2 linked regions of the Homo sapiens genome follow. The protein of the gene in region 1 purifies or fractionates together with the protein of each later gene. This does not show direct contact. Each region holds a gene or a part of one and is shown in the gene's direction. Other genes may lie near its edges.

Region 1 (3,749 bases):
TGAGTGACAGAGTGAGACCATATCTCCAGAAAAGAAAAAAAAAAGAAAGAAAGAAAAGAAAAGAAAAAGAAATTGAGCACATTATTACAATTTAATATCTTGATTGAAGGGAAGAGGTGAGACATCAGTTTCATTCATATTAAAGAGGAAATAGGTACTGTTATGTCAATGGGAAATGAGAGGAGGAATTAAATGTAGGAAACAGAATAACAAAGAACCAACTCATAAAAAACTAAAACAACCCATATCAGACACACCTTATAATCTGTATGTCTGTGTTGACTTATCCTCTTGGAATGTGAGGAATATTCTTTATTAATTTTACTTACTGGGTTGCCAGATATAATACAGGAAGCCCAGTTAAATCTGAATTTCAGATAAACAACAAATAACTTTTTAGTATATGTCCCAAATATTGCATGGGGCATATTTATACTAAAAAACTATTTATTGTTTATCTGACATTCAAATTTCACCAGATGTTCTGCATTTTTATTTGCTAAATCTGGGCACTCTTCACTGGGCATCTTCTCAGGGCACTAACCTGCCAAATGCCAACTGCTGTGGGGCTGCTCAGAGAATATGACCTAATGACAATGGGAGATGACATGTTGCTGGCAATGAGAGAAGTGAATAAAATGTTGCATACTTGTTTTCAGGAGCTGTTCTCAAAGCTTACCACCTTTTTAGTGTGGGATTAGGTCTTCAACTTCAACTTTGTCTTCACCTTTGTCTTAAGGTCAAAAGAAGACGTTAGAGATGTCTTTGGTAGGGCATAATGTATCCTTTTAGATTGATATTTGTGGGCCATTTGTTTTACAGGGGGTTAGTCCAGGAAGTACAAGACAATGTCATTAGGCGGATAGAGTTCCATTTAAATTAAAAATAAAATCTATTGTTAGGTTTAAATGAGTCACTGCTTCATTAAGCTATCAATATTAGATAACACATATTGAATGAATGTTTCCCATAGGCCAAGCTCTGTCCCAAGCATTTCACATGTATTTGCATTTCGTGCTCACAAACTGCCTCTGACTGACTGATTTTGATTTTCTTGATTTTATGGATGAGGAGACCGAGAAGCAGAGATGATGAACTTCCCCAAGGTCACACCACTCATAAGTGGGAGAAACAAGCTAAAATTCAGGCCATCTTACTGCAGAATACTCAAAATCAAAATAAGCAAAATTTCATCTCCAGTTCTGGCACCTCACCAAAAACCAAAACACGATTTAAAAATATAAAATTTTAATAACACCACACATAAATTTCAAACTACTTTCCCTAAGTTTCTAGCTGAAGTTTTAAATGAGTGTGTTTTTAATTTATTAGAAAGTGGATTGAAGAGAAAACATTGGAAGATGAAGGAAGGCGTTTCAGTTAAACCCCAAATAACTCTGTGTTACACTGAGCTATGAAACGGCTCCTTCTAGCTCCATTTCTCCTCAGACCTAAGTGCTATTCCTGATTGTCCTTCATTGTCATTTCCAGGGAGAAATGACACCAGCACAGTGGCAGGCCTTCCAATCTGGAGCACGGTCCACACAACTTCCGAATTGGTGTTCAGTGTAAAGTGTATCGGAGTGCGGAAAATGCGCAGGGCATTGCCAACTATAGATGCTCGGAGTAATTCAGTGTATTCAGAGAACACGGTGAAACAAGGAAAACCGGCCTGACTGGGGGGTGAATTCAGCAGGGAGTAAATCTGATCGGCATCAGGTCTGCGGAAAGGAGCTGGTGAGCACGACACCACCCAGGCATTGCCTGGCTCTCTCCGCGGCGGGCTAAGTTAACCGCGGGTCCAGGTGCGGGCCATGGTCTTGGGGAGGGTGCTGGGTGCGCTCGAGCAGGCTAGCGTCGGGAGCCGCCGCTGCTAGTGAGAGGCCGGGGCCACACACGCTCCTCCCCGGTACCTCCTCCAGCATCACCAGGGGAGGAGAGGGTCGGGGCCACAAGGCCGCGCTAGGCGGACCCAGGACACAGCCCGCGCGCAGCCCACCCGCCCGCCGCCTGCCAGAGCTGCTCGGCCCGCAGCCAGGGGGACAGCGGCTGGTCGGAGGCTCGCAGTGCTGTCGGCGAGAAGCAGTCGGGTTTGGAGCGCTTGGGTCGCGTTGGTGCGCGGTGGAACGCGCCCAGGGACCCCAGTTCCCGCGAGCAGCTCCGCGCCGCGCCTGAGTGAGGAGGGGCCCCGGGGGCGAGGCGGGAGTGGGAGGAAGGGCACGGTCGCCGCGCTGGAGGTCGGGACCCCGGAGCGGCGACCGGCCGGGGTGGGCTCGCTGAGTCGCACCCGCTCTGCTGGCCGGTCCTGGGCTCACAGTCCCTGCAGCCCTCGGAAACAGCGCTAGGATCCTTGCGGGGAGAGGGAGAGGATGACGGTATTAGACACCAGTTCTTCCAAACCTTTTCCCGAAAGGAAGCAACCCTAAGAGCTCAGAGCTGGGGGGAGAATCAGGACAGGCAGGGAACACATGGAGTTTTCTTTTCTTTTTTTTCTCTCTCTCTCTCTTTCTTTCGTTCCTTCTTTCTTTCTTTTGAGGCGGAGTCTCATTTTGTCGCCAGGCTGGAGTGCAGAGGCGCGATCTCGACTCACTGCAACCTCTGTCTCCCGGGTTCAAGCAATTCTCCTGCCTCAACTTCCCGAGTAGCTGGGACTGCTGGCGTGCCGTATCACGCTCGGCTAATTTTTTTGAATTTTTAGTAGAGACGGGGTTTCGCTGTGTTCGCCACAATGGTCTCGATCTCCTGACCTCGTGATTCGCCCGCCTCCGCCTCCCAAAATGCTGGGATTACAGGCATGAGCCACCGCGCCCGCCCCGGAGTTTTCTTATCTGTAGATCTCCTACAGGGACAATCTCTCTCTCCGTCTCTCTCTCTCTCTCTCTCTCTCTCTCTCTCTCTCTCTCTCTCTCTCTCTCTCTCTCTCTCTCTCTCTCTCTCTCACACACACACACACCACTACACACCTCTCACTCTGCCTCCTCTCTCTCTCTCCCTCCGCTCTCTCTCTCACACACCCTTCTCCCTCTCTCCCTCTCTCTCACTCTCCCTTTGAGGAGTATTGCGTTTTTGGAGCCCAGTTATGCGTGGCTGCTGTAAGAACAAAACAAAGCACTCTTTGTCCTACCTGGAGCATCCCCCTGCCGGCCAGATAAGATCACAGCTGTGTCACCAAGTCAAGGGAGAGGCTCATTTTTAAAAAATTAAGCAAAATCAGAAAACAGAGAACACTGTCTTCCTCATCATCTCCTGGAGCTTGTAAGAGAAATTTCTGTCACCAAAAACGAAAAGTTCGGGCTTTTATTCATGCCTGTGGTTCTTGGGATTACTGCAGTGGTGATGAGGAAGGAGAGGTGCGTATGGCTCATAAATGGCAGCTTGCCACCTTTAAAAGGCACACGGATTCAGATTTGGGATGTGTTAACAAATCAGGCTTGCACAAATTACTTTTGATCCAAATGAGAATGCTGAGCTGGGAGACTGGTATATGGGTAGGAGCTGGAAAATGTATCCCCTGAGGTGTTGGCAATCCCAAGAGGCTCAGCACGAAACCTTGAGCTTACATTGAATTCAGAGATCTGAGCATTAAGCACTGGCCTGATCAAGAAGAAGCAGATGGCCTTCTGGTCACGAGGCACTGGTGAGCCTCCATCACCCAGGCAGATTCCCTCACAGAGGAATTCTGCTGGCCCTGCAGAAAGTGGTGAGACAGCGCACCACCTTGGCATTTTCCAGCAGGCCTACTTCAGCTC
Region 2 (3,428 bases), on another chromosome or scaffold:
TGTGAAGTTCCAAACTTCAATCTGACAACCCCTAAGAAGGTCTTCCCTGGTTCTGGCTTGCAGGGATATCAGGAGTATGCAGGTGACTCCCAAAGCAGAAAGGTCATAAAGGACAAGGGCAGGTTAGATGGGTCCATTGAGAGACGGAGAAGCCCCCTGCTCCTCACTGAGTTGTGGTCAGGGGCAGTGGAGAAAGGTCTGAGGTCCAAGGGGACCCCAAGTCTGAATATAACGCAGCCACAGAATGCCTGTGCTGAAGTGAGACTGCTCCAGGGAGACAAGCAGTAGCACAATGTCCCGAGTTGAGGGGTTGGGGTTGTCCTCCCCTGGCCCAGGGAACACTATGCCCAGGGCAGCCTGATGTCACAACTGGTAAGGACCACTGGAGCCTGAGTCGGGAGGAAAACAGCCTGGGTGGTCATAAAGAATGGCAGAGGGCCAGAGCAGGGATGTGGCAAGACTGACACCCTTGAAGTCACCAGAAAGCTATCCCCTTGGACTTGGGCAGAAGTGTCTCTTAATATGATGATGTATTATCATTAATAGTTGCCACCTGCTACCATGTATTGAGCACCTATTGTGTGCCAGACCTAGCACTTAGCTCTTTACATGGGTTATCTCATGTGATCATTGTAAGAACCCTAAGGAGGTTTTTCTTACTATCCTCCATTTTACAGGTAAGAAAACTGAGGCTCAAAGAGGTTAAATCAGTTGTTCCAGGTGCATAGCTTGGGCACCTAGCTTGCAAGTGACAAGGCGAGCCCAATGCCACCCACACCAGCTCTGGTTCTTTGCCTCCAGCCCTGGCTCCTTTCTCCAACCATCTTCCCTCTCTGCCCCGGGCAGGTGGGGAGAAAAGGAAGAAAGAGAGGCCCACGTCATGTGTTTCAGCTTCCCTTTCCCTCTCTGCTGGTGCCCACTGGCCCTCACACCCATTTCTTGTTGCAGGAAGGTGAACAAGTGCTACCGGGGCCGCTCCTGCCCCATCATCGTGCACTGCAGGTGGGTGGAGAGGAGATTCATCTCTCTGGTCCCACTCCCTGTGTGCGTCTCCTGTGCACATTGCCTGCCTGTCCCCTTGGTGCTAGCAAACTGCAGGCATAGTCCAAATCCAGCACACCACCTGTTTTTAATGGCCAAGACCTAAGCGTGGCATTCACAGTTTTAAATGGGTGAAGAAAAAAGAAGAAAAGTATGTGATACAAACTGTATGTGGCCCACAAAGTTGAAAATATTGACCATTGGCCCCCTATACACAAAAAGCTGGCTGAAGGCTAGAGAGGCCCATCCAATTCCCTCCTGCTGCCTCTGCTTCTGGGCTGAGCCATGGCTCTCCTCTTTGGTTGTCCCATTGCCCAAATGACACCCACAGGTCACAGACTCCCCTCTCAAGGCCCAAGTCCCAGCGTGCAGGTGCTATGAGCTTTCCTTCATCCTCGGCTCACTGTCCCTCTCCAAGCCAACCCCAACGGGTCACCCAGTGTCCTCCCCTCCCCCAGGCCTCCAGGCCTCCTCGCCTCCTCCGTCCCTCCCCCTTTCTGCTGCATCTCAAGCTAAACCTGTCACTAACTCCTGTTTCAGTGATGGTGCGGGGAGGACCGGCACCTACATCCTCATCGACATGGTCCTGAACCGCATGGCAAAAGGTAGGGAGCTTCCCCACGGTGCCCGCAGCCCCCAGGCCCTTTTTAGAGGCTCCCCAGCACACAGGGTCCTGGGAGCTCAGAAGGAGCAGGTTGTCAACCTCCAGGCTCTGCCCAGCCCTCCAAGGCTCTTTGCCTCCAGGAGGCCTCAGGTTTTCTGGGTCCTGTCCTCCTCTGGACACCCCCTGAGCAGCCCCATCCCCACCTCCATCTCCAGGAGTGAAGGAGATTGACATCGCTGCCACCCTGGAGCATGTCCGTGACCAGCGGCCTGGCCTTGTCCGCTCTAAGGTGACCATGCCTTCCTGCCCCAACCCCAGCTCCCACCCTTCCCTAGCACCCACTTCTTGGCCACCCCAGGGAAAGCAGCAGCTGCCAACCTTTCCCACCTGCTTCTGCGCCTCCTCCAGGAGGGCTCCCTTCCTCCCAGGGGACCTGCCCAGGGCCCTCCCCCCACCAAAAGCCCCCCATCTTGAGGGCAGAGCACAGGTCAGCCCTCTCCATGACCATCCTACCACTGCCCTTCCTCAGGACCAGTTTGAATTTGCCCTGACAGCCGTGGCGGAGGAAGTGAATGCCATCCTCAAGGCCCTGCCCCAGTGAGACCCTGGGGCCCCTTGGCGGGCAGCCCAGCCTCTGTCCCTCTTTGCCTGTGTGAGCATCTCTGTGTACCCACTCCTCACTGCCCCACCAGCCACCTCTTGGGCATGCTCAGCCCTTCCTAGAAGAGTCAGGAAGGGAAAGCCAGAAGGGGCACGCCTGCCCAGCCTCGCATGCCAGAGCCTGGGGCATCCCAGAGCCCAGGGCATCCCATGGGGGTGCTGCAGCCAGGAGGAGAGGAAAGGACATGGGTAGCAATTCTACCCAGAGCCTTCTCCTGCCTACATTCCCTGGCCTGGCTCTCCTGTAGCTCTCCTGGGGTTCTGGGAGTTCCCTGAACATCTGTGTGTGTCCCCCTATGCTCCAGTATGGAAGAATGGGGTGGAGGGTCGCCACACCCGGCTCCCCCTGCTTCTCAGCCCCGGGCCTGCCTCTGACTCACACTTGGGCGCTCTGCCCTCCCTGGCCTCACGCCCAGCCTCCTCCCACCACCCTCCCACCATGCGCTGCTCAACCTCTCTCCTTCTGGCGCAAGAGAACATTTCTAGAAAAAACTACTTTTGTACCAGTGTGAATAAAGTTAGTGTGTTGTCTGTGCAGCTGCAACCCAGACTCCTACGCATTTCTGTCCGCTGTGCATCTGGACTCCAGCCCCAGCCTCAGCCCGGAGCCGGTCCCTGCTGGTCTCTCAGGAGGTGCAGAGAGCACAGCAGGAGAGCGCCAGCTGCCAGTAAGGCCCTTCTAGGTGGGAACACTACGTTAGAACGAGGCTTCCTATGCAGCCAGCAGTCTCCAAGGTGCTTTACATGATGAGTCCCATTTTACAGATGGAAAGACTGAGGCACAGAACTTGCTTGTGGTAACACGTAACACAACTTGTAAGATTGTAAGGTGCAATGGCTCATGCCTGTAATCCCAGCTCTTTGGGAGGCTGAGGCAGGCAGATCACCTGATGTCAGGAGTTGGAGACCAGCCTGGCCAACATGGAGAAATCCCGTCTTTACTAAAAATACAAAATTAGCCGGCCATGGTGGCTCGCGCCTGTAATCCCAGCACTTTGGGTGGCTGAGGCAGGCATATCACCTGAGGTCAGGAGTTCGAGACCAGCCTGGCCAACATGGCAAAACCCTGTCTCTACTAAAAATACAAAAAAATTAGCCATGTGTAGTGGCGGGTACCTGTAAT

What was found.
Region 2: the proteins of PLA2G7 (region 1) and PTPRN purify together in Homo sapiens (affinity purification with mass spectrometry; 3 studies listed by BioGRID and IntAct, with this or other methods). This does not show direct contact.

Annotation. Positions count from the first base shown.
Region 1 is NC_000006.12:46,733,606-46,737,354, reverse strand, and holds the start of PLA2G7 (platelet-activating factor acetylhydrolase precursor), read left to right. Parts: upstream 1-1,979; 5' UTR 1,980-2,175; intron 2,176-3,749. UniProt on the Homo sapiens protein: Lipoprotein-associated calcium-independent phospholipase A2 involved in phospholipid catabolism during inflammatory and oxidative stress response.
Region 2 is NC_000002.12:219,289,044-219,292,471, reverse strand, and holds the end of PTPRN (receptor-type tyrosine-protein phosphatase-like N isoform 1 precursor), read left to right. Parts: intron 1-948; coding exon 949-1,002; intron 1,003-1,581; coding exon 1,582-1,646; intron 1,647-1,860; coding exon 1,861-1,934; intron 1,935-2,174; coding exon 2,175-2,246; 3' UTR 2,247-2,849; downstream 2,850-3,428. UniProt on the Homo sapiens protein: Plays a role in vesicle-mediated secretory processes. Required for normal accumulation of secretory vesicles in hippocampus, pituitary and pancreatic islets.